Regions from separate parts of the Homo sapiens genome. Here region 1 is linked to region 2. The links come from fine-mapping of genetic effects on gene expression. A gene starts in region 2. The other region holds a variant in brackets. All regions are shown on one strand. Distances are from middle to middle. Region 1 holds the start of PPP1R15A (protein phosphatase 1 regulatory subunit 15A). Region 2 holds the start of HSD17B14 (hydroxysteroid 17-beta dehydrogenase 14).

What was found.
Region 1: its variant is fine-mapped to the expression of HSD17B14 in stomach (GTEx, PIP 0.91).

The regions. Positions count from the first base shown.
Region 1 is chr19:48,870,169-48,875,526 of GRCh38, forward strand. PPP1R15A (protein phosphatase 1 regulatory subunit 15A) reads left to right here and starts at 2,253. Exons shown (of 3, transcript NM_014330.5): 1 at 2,253-2,483; 2 at 3,057-4,730. The coding sequence starts at 3,066. RefSeq lists enhancers at 1,198-1,810, 1,811-2,422, 2,081-2,140, 2,251-2,360, 3,021-3,110 and 5 more and cis regulatory regions at 1,900-2,473, 2,660-3,160, 3,320-3,820, 4,200-4,720. The variant AC/A (reference allele first, on the strand shown) is at 2,847.
Region 2 is chr19:48,833,358-48,838,723 of GRCh38, forward strand. HSD17B14 (hydroxysteroid 17-beta dehydrogenase 14) reads right to left here and starts at 3,134. Exons shown (of 9, transcript NM_016246.3): 1 at 2,967-3,134; 2 at 2,448-2,486; 3 at 919-1,001. The coding sequence starts at 3,054. PLEKHA4 (pleckstrin homology domain containing A4) reads right to left here. Exons shown (of 20, transcript NM_020904.3): 19 at 4,660-4,772; 20 at 3,740-4,194. The coding sequence ends at 3,932. RefSeq lists a silencer at 4,042-4,111.

The DNA of each region.
Region 1 (5,358 bases), 37 kb after region 2:
GAGCCCAGCAAAGTGCCTGATCTCATAGTGCTTACATCCTCATTCTCATTTGCAAGGAATCTGGACCCTGCTGTGACTATCTTGGTCAAGTGGCTTCATTTCCAAGCCTGTTTCCCCATCTGTGAAATGGGAACAATGACACCCTCGCACTCGGGGAGGAAACCAACCACATGTGAAAATAGGAGACTCTAGCCAGGCGTGGTGGCAAGCTCCTGTACTCCCAACTACTCAGGAGGCTGAGGCAGGAGAATTGCTTGAACCCGGGAGGCGGAGGTTGCAGTGAGCCAAGATCATGCCATTGCACTCCAGCCTGGGTGACAGAGTGAGACACCGTCTCAAAAAAAAAAAAAAAAAAAGAAAGAAAAAGAAAAAAGAAAGAAAAGAAAAAAAAAAGAAAATGGGAGACTCTAGGCTGGGGCCTGTGGGCTAAATTGGGGTAGGAGGCCAGGCACAGTGGATCACAACTGTAATTCCAGCACTTTGGGAAGCCAAGGCGGGCAGATCACCTGAGGTCAGGAGTTCAAGACCAGCCTGGTCGGCCGGGTGCGGTGGCTCACACCTGTAATCCCAGCACTTTGGGAGGCCGAGGCGGGTGGATCACAAGGTCAGGAGATCGAGACCATCCTGGTTAACACGGTGAAAAACCCCGTCTCTACTAAGAATACAAAAAAAATTAGCCGGGCGTGGTGGTGGGCACCTGTAGTCCCAGCTACTAGGGAGGCTGAGGCAGGAGAATGGCGAGAACCAGGGAGGAGGAGCTTGCAGTGAGCCAAGATCGTGCCACTGCACTCCAGCCTGGGCGACAGAGCAAGACTCCGTCTCAAAAAAAAAAAAAAAAAAAAAGACCTGCCTGGTCAACATGGCGAAACACTGTCTCTACTAAAAATACAAAAATTACCCAGGCATTGTGGCACATGCCTGTAATCCCAGCTACTCCAGAGGCTCAGGCAGGAGAATCGCTGGAACCCAGGAGGTGGAGGTTGCAGTGAACCGAGATGGCGCCACTGAACTCCAGCCTGGGCGACAGAGTGAGACGCCTACTCAAAAAATAAATAGGCTGGGTGCAGTAGCTCACGCCTATAATCCTAACACTTTGGGAAGCCGAGGCAGGCAGACTGCCTGAGCTCAGGAGTTCGAGAACAGCCTGGGCAACATGGCGAAACACTGTCTCTACTAAAAATACAAAAAATTAGCTGAGTGTGGTAGTGCGTGCCTGTAATCCCAGCTACTCGGAGGCTGAAGAGGGAGAATCGCTTGAACCCGGAAGATGGAGGTTGCAGTGAGCCGAGATCACGCCATTGCACTCCAGCCTCGGTGACAGAGCGAGACTCCATCTCAAAAAAAAATAAAAAAATAAAAAATAACAAATAAATAAATAGGCCTGGAGTGGTGGCTCACGCCTGCAATCCCAGCACTTTGGGAGGCCAAGGCAGGCAGAACACCTGAGGTCAGGAGTTCGAGACCAGCCTAGCAAACATGGTGAAATCCCGTCTCAGAAAAATAAATAATGAATAAATAAATAAATAAATAGGCCGGGCGCGGTGACTCACGCCTGTAATCCCAGCACTTTGGGAGGCCAAGGCGGGAGGATCCCCTGACGTCGGGAGTTCCAGACCAGCCTGACCAACATGGAGAAACTACGTCTCTACTAAACAAATACAAAATTAGCCGGGCGTGGCGGCACATGCCTGCAATCCCAGCACTTTGGGAGGCCAAGGCGGGAGGATCCCCTGACGTCGGGAGTTCCAGACCAGCCTGACCAACATGGAGAAACTACGTCTCTACTAAACAAATACAAAATTAGCCGGGCGTGGCGGCACATGCCTGCAATCCCAGATACTCGGGATGCTGAGGCAGGAGAATCGCTTGAACCCCGAAGGCGGAGGTTGCGGTGAGCCGAGATCGCCCCTTTGCATTCCAGCCTGAGCAACAAGAGCAAAACTCCGCCTCAAAATAACTAACTAAATAAATAAATAAATTGGGGTGGGAAGGCATTGACCCTGAGCTGAGAGAGAACTGGCTCGCTGTTGAAGCAGGGCCACGCATTTGATTGACAGTTCGTTTGTTGGAGGGGCGTGGTCACGCTCGGAAACTCCGCCGTGACGTTGCAAAAGCTGGAATCTCCGCGAGAAGTCCTGTCTTACTTCCACTTCCCACCCTTCGGGTTGCGGTCTCGAAACCCCGCCTCTCTTCGTGACGTCAGCACGCCGGGCGCGGTAGGCTATAAAAGCCTAGTGGCCATTGTGTTCGTTGCTCTTATCGGTTCCCATCCCAGTTGTTGATCTTATGCAAGACGCTGCACGACCCCGCGCCCGCTTGTCGCCACGGCACTTGAGGCAGCCGGAGATACTCTGAGTTACTCGGAGCCCGACGCCTGAGGGTGAGATGAACGCGCTGGCCTCCCTAACCGTCCGGACCTGTGATCGCTTCTGGCAGACCGAACCGGCGCTCCTGCCCCCGGGGTGACGCGCAGCTCCCAGCCGGTGAGTAAGGGGTCGGAACGCCTGGGTCCCCACGGGGCTGGGGGCCCGGATTTAGAAAGGAGAAGGGGTTGGGAGCCTGGAGTCCTGAGCCTGAGGGAGGAGGGATCTGGAAGCCAGATTCTTGGGTCCCCCGTGAAGGAATCATCTGCCAAGTAGGGGGTCGGGTCAGAATGTTTCAGTCTGCGAGGGAGGAGGGTGTGAGGGTTTGATTTGTCAATCTTCAGCAGAATGAGAGAGCTAGGGACTATGACTTTGTCGCCAAGGGAAGCAAGTAAAGACTTTTGTTCTTGGTTCTTGGGACTGGGAGTTCTGCGTCTGAAGAAAGAGAGGGCTGGGGGCTTGGACCCTTGGATCTAAGGCAGA[AC/A]TAGGGGCTCAGACTCCTGGCTATTGAGAGATAAGAACAGAGCCAAGGGACAGAGATGGGCGTGGCCGAGATCAGAAAGGAATTTGGGACTCTCGCGTTGCTATTTACAATAGTTGTGTTACTATTTCCGTTGCTATGACTCATAGTCACGCCCGGATGCCATCCTCTAAATGGCCCCTAAACTTTATTTTTTTCTCCCCCTTTTCCAGCCCAGACACATGGCCCCAGGCCAAGCACCCCATCAGGCTACCCCGTGGAGGGATGCCCACCCTTTCTTCCTCCTGTCCCCAGTGATGGGCCTCCTCAGCCGCGCCTGGAGCCGCCTGAGGGGCCTGGGACCTCTAGAGCCCTGGCTGGTGGAAGCAGTAAAAGGAGCAGCTCTGGTAGAAGCTGGCCTGGAGGGAGAAGCTAGGACTCCTCTGGCAATCCCCCATACCCCTTGGGGCAGACGCCCTGAAGAGGAGGCTGAAGACAGTGGAGGCCCTGGAGAGGACAGAGAAACACTGGGGCTGAAAACCAGCAGTTCCCTTCCTGAAGCCTGGGGACTTTTGGATGATGATGATGGCATGTATGGTGAGCGAGAGGCAACCAGTGTCCCTAGAGGGCAGGGAAGTCAATTTGCAGATGGCCAGCGTGCTCCCCTGTCTCCCAGCCTTCTGATAAGGACACTGCAAGGTTCTGATAAGAACCCAGGGGAGGAGAAAGCCGAGGAAGAGGGAGTTGCTGAAGAGGAGGGAGTTAACAAGTTCTCTTATCCACCATCACACCGGGAGTGTTGTCCAGCCGTGGAGGAGGAGGACGATGAAGAAGCTGTAAAGAAAGAAGCTCACAGAACCTCTACTTCTGCCTTGTCTCCAGGATCCAAGCCCAGCACTTGGGTGTCTTGCCCAGGGGAGGAAGAGAATCAAGCCACGGAGGATAAAAGAACAGAAAGAAGTAAAGGAGCCAGGAAGACCTCCGTGTCCCCCCGATCTTCAGGCTCCGACCCCAGGTCCTGGGAGTATCGTTCAGGAGAGGCGTCCGAGGAGAAGGAGGAAAAGGCACACAAAGAAACTGGGAAAGGAGAAGCTGCCCCAGGGCCGCAATCCTCAGCCCCAGCCCAGAGGCCCCAGCTCAAGTCCTGGTGGTGCCAACCCAGTGATGAAGAGGAGGGTGAGGTCAAGGCTTTGGGGGCAGCTGAGAAGGATGGAGAAGCTGAGTGTCCTCCCTGCATCCCCCCACCAAGTGCCTTCCTGAAGGCCTGGGTGTATTGGCCAGGAGAGGACACAGAGGAAGAGGAAGATGAGGAAGAAGATGAGGACAGTGACTCTGGATCAGATGAGGAAGAGGGAGAAGCTGAGGCTTCCTCTTCCACTCCTGCTACAGGTGTCTTCTTGAAGTCCTGGGTCTATCAGCCAGGAGAGGACACAGAGGAGGAGGAAGATGAGGACAGTGATACAGGATCAGCCGAGGATGAAAGAGAAGCTGAGACTTCTGCTTCCACACCCCCTGCAAGTGCTTTCTTGAAGGCCTGGGTGTATCGGCCAGGAGAGGACACGGAGGAGGAGGAAGATGAGGATGTGGATAGTGAGGATAAGGAAGATGATTCAGAAGCAGCCTTGGGAGAAGCTGAGTCAGACCCACATCCCTCCCACCCGGACCAGAGGGCCCACTTCAGGGGCTGGGGATATCGACCTGGAAAAGAGACAGAGGAAGAGGAAGCTGCTGAGGACTGGGGAGAAGCTGAGCCCTGCCCCTTCCGAGTGGCCATCTATGTACCTGGAGAGAAGCCACCGCCTCCCTGGGCTCCTCCTAGGCTGCCCCTCCGACTGCAAAGGCGGCTCAAGCGCCCAGAAACCCCTACTCATGATCCGGACCCTGAGACTCCCCTAAAGGCCAGAAAGGTAGGTGCTGAGAGCCCAGATTCTATTTTTTTTTTTTTTTTAATTGAGTTGGAGTCTTGGGCTGTCACCCAGGCTGGAGTGCAGCGGCATGATCTTGGCTCACTGCCAACCTCTGCCGCCCAAGTTCAGGCGATTCTCGTGCCTCAGCCTCCAGAGTATCTGGGATTACAGGCGCATGACACCACACCCAGCTAATTTTTTTTGTATTTTTAGTAGAGACGGGGGTTTTGCCATGTTGGCCAGGCTGGTCTCAAACTCCTGACATCACGTGATCCACCCATCTCAGCCTCCCAAAGTGCTGGGATTACAGGCGTGAGCTACCACATCTGGCTGAGAGCCCAGATTCTTGAGTCTTAGAAAGAAAGGGGGCTGGGGGCCGAGACTTCTGGGTCCCTGTATGTTGCAGAGGGTTGCATGTCATCTCCATGGAGAAGGCTGTGTACGCTGTCACGCAATCCCTTGTAAGAGGCCAGGCCCCTGGGGGAGGAGGGAGCAGCTGTGGCTCACAGCAGCCCCAGGAAACCACCTCTTCCTTCAGTGAGTCAGATAGATAGAGAATCCCGTGACAGTGACAGGCAAGTGACTAGCCAGATAGAAAGCATTTTTGTGTAATAACTAATTTTTGTTT
Region 2 (5,366 bases):
AAAGGAAGAAATAGGAACCCAGAAATAATGGAGAAAAAATCAGTTACATACAGGCCACGTGCAGTGGCTCACACCTGTAATCCCAACACTTTGGGAGGCTGAGGTGGGCGGATCACCTGAGGTCAGGAGTTCGAGACCAGCCTGGCCAACATGGTGAAACCCTGTCTCTACTAAAACTACAAAAATTAGCCAGACACGGTGGCTCATGCTTGTAATCCCAGCACTTTGGGAGGCTGAGGCGGGCGGATCATCTGAGGTTGGGAGTTCGAGACCAGCCTGACCAACATGGAGAAACACCGTCTCTACTAAAAATACAAAATTAGCCAGGTGTGGTGGCACATGCCTGAAATCTCAGCTACTCGGGAGGCTGAGAGAGGAGAATCACTTGAAGCTGGGAGGCAGAGGTTGCGGTGAGCCGAGATCACACCATTGCACTCCAGCCTGGGCAACAGGAGCGAAACTCTGTCTTAAAAAAAAAAAAAATTAGCCGGGCATGGTGGCGCACACCTGTAATCCCAGCTACTCGGGAGGCTGAGATAGGAGAATGGCTTGAACTCGGTAGGCTGAGGTTGCAGTGAGCCGAGATCACACCACTGCACTCCAGCCTCAGTGACACTTACAAAAAAAAGAGACAGAAAAATCAGTTCCAGTTGACCCACTTTGAGGGACTTATTCATTTCCATCCACATGTTAAATGTGCTAAGAGCCTTGGAGAGGTGTGACAGAAGGAACATGTGACCTGCCCATCAGTCACAGAAGACCTTGTGTGTGGAGTGACACTGGGTGGAAACCTTTGACGAGTCCAGCGGAGCCAGGAGAGGAAGGAAAAGTAGAGGGAAAGGCATATGCAAATGGCTGGAGGAGAACAAAGAACTGGTCATTAGCGGAGATGGGGGTAGGAACAGGAACTCGGCTTACCTTCACATCATCTTCCTGAGTCACATCACAGAGGATAAAGACAGCTCCAGGGAGCTCCTGCTCCAGGGCCCGGCCCCCAGACTCTGCAGGGAGAGAAGAGCTGGGAGCCTGGACCCCTGGGTCTCAGGGAGGAGGGGTTGGGGACTTGGACTCCTGGGTCTGAGGGAGGAGGTGCTGGGGGCCTGGACTCCTGGGTCTGAGGGAGGAGGGGCTGAGGTCTGGACTCCTGGGTCTGAGGAAGTAGGGCCTGGGGGCCTGGACTCCTGGGTCTGAGGGAGGAAGGGCTGGGAGCCTGGACTCCTGGGTCCGAGGAAGTAGGGCCTGGGGGCCTGGACTCCTGGGTCTGAGGGAGGAAGGGCTGGGAGCCTGGACTCCTGGGTCCGAGGAAGTAGGGCCTGGGGGCCTGGACTCCTGGGTCTGAGGGAGGAAGGGCTGGGAGCCTGGACTCCTGGGTCTGAGGGAGGAGGGGCTGGGAGCCTGGACTCCTGGGTCTGAGGGAGGAGGGGCTGGGAGCCTGGACTCCTGGGTCTGAGGGAGGAGGGGCTGGGGGCCTGGACTCCTGGGTCTGAGGGAGGAGGGGCTGAGGTCTGGACTCCTGGGTCCGAGGAAGTAGGGCCTGGGGGCCTGGACTCCTGGGTCTGAGGGAGGAAGGGCTGGGAGCCTGGACTCCTGGGTCTGAGGGAGGAGGGGCTGGGGGCCTGGACTCCTGGGTCTGAGGGAGGAGGGGCTGAGGTCTGGACTCCTGGGTCCGAGGAAGTAGGGCCTGGGGGCCTGGACTCCTGGGTCTGAGGGAGGAGGTGCTGGGAGCCTGGACTCCTGGGTCTGAGGGAGGAGGGGCTGGGGGCCTGGACTCCTGGGTCTGAGGGAGGAGGGGCTGAGGTCTGGACTCCTGGGTCCGAGGAAGTAGGGCCTGGGGGCCTGGACTCCTGGGTCTGAGGGAGGAGGTGCTGGGAGCCTGGACTCCTGGGTCTGAGGGAGGAGGGGCTGGGGGCCTGGACTCCTGGGTCTGAGGGAGGAGGGGATGGGGGCCTGGACTCCTGGGTCTGAGGGAGGAGGGGCTGGGAGCCTGGACTCCTGGGTCTGAGGGAGGAGGGGCTGAGGTCTGGACTCCTGGGTCTGAGAAAGTAGGGCCTGGGGGCCTGGACTCCTGGGTCTGAGGGAGGAGGTGCCAGAGCCTGGACTCCTGGGTCTGAGGGAAGAGGGGCTGGGAGCCTGGACCCCTGGGTCTGAAGGAGGAGGGGTTGGGGACTTGGATTCCTGGGTCTGAGGGAGGAGGTGCCGGAGCCTGGACTTCTGGGTCTGAGGGAGGAGGGGCTGGGGACCTGGACTCCTGGGTCTGAGGGCAGAGGGGCTGGGGGCCTGGACTCCTAGGTCTGAGGGAGGAGGGGCTGAGGTCTGGACTCCTGGGTCTGAGGAAGTAGGGCCTGGGGGCCTGGACTCCGGGGTCTGAGGGAGGAGGTGCTAGGGGTCTGGACCTCTGGGTCTGAGGGAGGAAGGGCCAAGGTGAGGGCTGAGGGACCGTCACTCACCATCCTTGTCGCAGATAACCACTCGGGCCCCGCTGTTCACTGAGAATAGGAAGGGAACAGGTTACTCTCCGAGCCTTGGTTAAAGCCTCTGCCGCCCTCTTGTGGCCACCTGGATTGGGGCTGATCTCCCTCTCCCCTCGTGACCCCAGTCTCATGATCACCCATAGGACAGAGGGCAGACGCCTTGACACATACTCTCCTTGCCTTGTTTCTGCTGAGGCTCCTGAACCCCCGTTCGTGGCTTCCGGAGCAAACTCCACGACTGACAGAGCCATTCCTCAAACCACTGGTTTTGTAGCTACACCAACAGACCCAGAGAAAGGGGCCACTGCCTTCGGAGACCCTGCCAGACTCAGCCCTAGCCTACAGCGCCACACGCTTACTTTAGCCTGCAAATTGGCTTTTATAATATCAGAATCCTGGCTGCAGTACTGGAGTCCCTATTTTCCGCCCCCATCACCCCGCCCCCATCCTTCCTTTCTCACACTCCACAGCTCCCAGCAGTCAGACCCGGCTCACCGAAGGCGCGCACGATCCCAGCTCCGATGCCGCGCCCGCCCCCGGTCACGACCACCACCTTCCCGGCATAGCGCGTTCCCGTAGCCATCCCGTGTACGTCGGTCTCTCTCTCTCTCTACTCTGGGCCTCTTTCACCTCCAAAGCCCCGTGAGGCCGTCGCATCAAATCCTCAATAGAGGCTGGATCCTGGAAGTCCGGCCTCGGGGGGCGTTGCCAGGAAGGCTAGAGACCTGGAAGTTTGTCCCCAGCCCCTCCTCCCTCAGACACTCCTCTCTTCCCACAGACCCAGGAATCCAGGAGCCCCAGTCCCTCCTCCCACAGACCCAGGAATCCAGAAGCCTCAGTCCCTCCTCCCTCAGACTCGGGAGTCCAGGCCCCCAGCCCCTCCTCCCTCAGACTCGGGAGTCCAGCCTCCCAGCCCCTCCTCCCTCAGACCCGGGAGTCCAGCCTCCCAGCCCCTCCTCCCTCAGACCCAGGAGTCAGGGTCCCAGCCCCTCCTCCCTCAGACCCGGGAGTCCAGCCTCCCAGTCCCTCCTCCCTCAGACCCAGGAGTCAGGGTCCCACCCCTTCCTCCCTCAGACCCGGGAATCCTGGCCCAGCCCCCTCCACTCTCAGACCGAGGGATCAGGTTCTCTATCCCTTCTTCCCAGAGACCTATAAGTCCAAGCCCCCTGTCCCTTCCTCTCTCAGGACCCAGGAGTCCACGACTCCAGCTCTGCCCCTCAGAGACACCAGTGCCACAACCCCAGACAGACAGAAAGAAAGCTATTGACTAAAAGTTCAAAGTTTTAATCCAAATTTAGACAGTGTTGAGAAAACCAAACTTTGGCCATAGAAACCATTCCCCTCCCGGGCCCGCAATGGGGACCAGACCACGCCCCCTGATGCCCTGAGTGGTCCCAGATCTCCGGCGGTACCTCCAGACCACGTCCTCGCGCTCCGATTGGCTGCCGCTTTTGGGCGGATTAGAAGCTGGATTGTAGCAGAGTGACTCGCAGAGGCCATGCCCCCTCGTCTTGTGGCAGGACCGGAGGGGCGATCCCGGCATCCCACGCGGGCCCCCAGGGGGTGGGACCTCCTCCACGCCCACTCCCTCGGCGAGAGAACCCCGTGGAACCCGAATTAGCCACCGGGGGAGATCTGGGGGGAGGGGTCTCCTGGCGCGTGGGGTCCGAAGGAGGCAGCGGCACACCGGGAAGAGGGTCTCCCTGGGAGTCCAAATTTCCACCTGGAGAGGATGAGTGGGACATGAGAATGGCAAACCTCAGCGCTAGGACCCCGGATTCCCAGCCCCTCCTCCCTCAGACCCAGGACTCCGGATTCCCAGCCCCTCCTCCATCAGACCCAGGAGTCCAGGCCCCCAGCCCCTCCTCCCTCAGACCCAGGAGTCCAGGCCCCCAGCCCCTCCTCCCTCAGATCCAGGAGTCTGGATACGCCAGTCCAGTCCTCTTTGAGACTCAGTTGTCGGCCCTCTCCCCGCCCCCTGACCTCTTCCTCCCCTCCTCCCAAGTGTCCCGGACCCCAGTCACCTCTTGCCTGAGACCTAAAACTCCCAAACCCTGCCCAACTCTTTACTCACCAAGATAAAAAATTCTCACCGGCCCCCAGACCCCTCCTCTCCAGGACCTGGGATTCCAGGTCTCCAGCTCTCTCCTCCCTAAAACCCAGAAGTCCAACATCCCCAGCCAGTCACCTGTCATCATTCTGTGCCACTGCGACGCCTCAGTAGCCAGGGCTTGGGAGAGGCTGAGAACCCGCTCCCGGTGACCTTCGGAAGTCGGCAAGTAAGGGGTGGTGTTCCTTGGACTAGAAAAAAAAAGAAGATTGGGGGTGGGGGTGTGTACATGGGGGAGAGGTGGGGGATGGTTAATTGGTACAAAAAGAAAAGGATGAATAAGACCTACTATTAGATAGCACAACAGAATGACTATAGTCAATAATAATTTAATTGTACATTTTTAAATAAATTAAAGGGTGTAACTAGATTGTTTATACATCAAAGGGTAAATCCTTGAAAGGGGATGGATACCCTATTCCCGATGATGTGCTTATTTCACATTGCCTGCCTGTATCAAAACATCTCAATTATCTCGTAAATATATGTATACCTAGTATGTACCAACAAAAATTAAAAATTAAAAAAAAAAAAAAAAAAGCAGGCCAGGTGCGACAGCTTATCCCTGTAATCCCAGCACCTTGGGAGGCCGAGGCGGGCGGATCACTTGAGGTCAGGAGTTCGAGACCACCCTGGCCAACATGGTGAAACCCAGTCTCTACCAAAAAATACAAAAAAGTTAGCCAGGCATGGTGGTGGGTGCCTGTAATTCCAGCTACTAGGGAGGCTGAGGAAGGAGAATCATTTGAACCCAGAAGGCGGAGGTTGCAGTGAACTGAGATCAC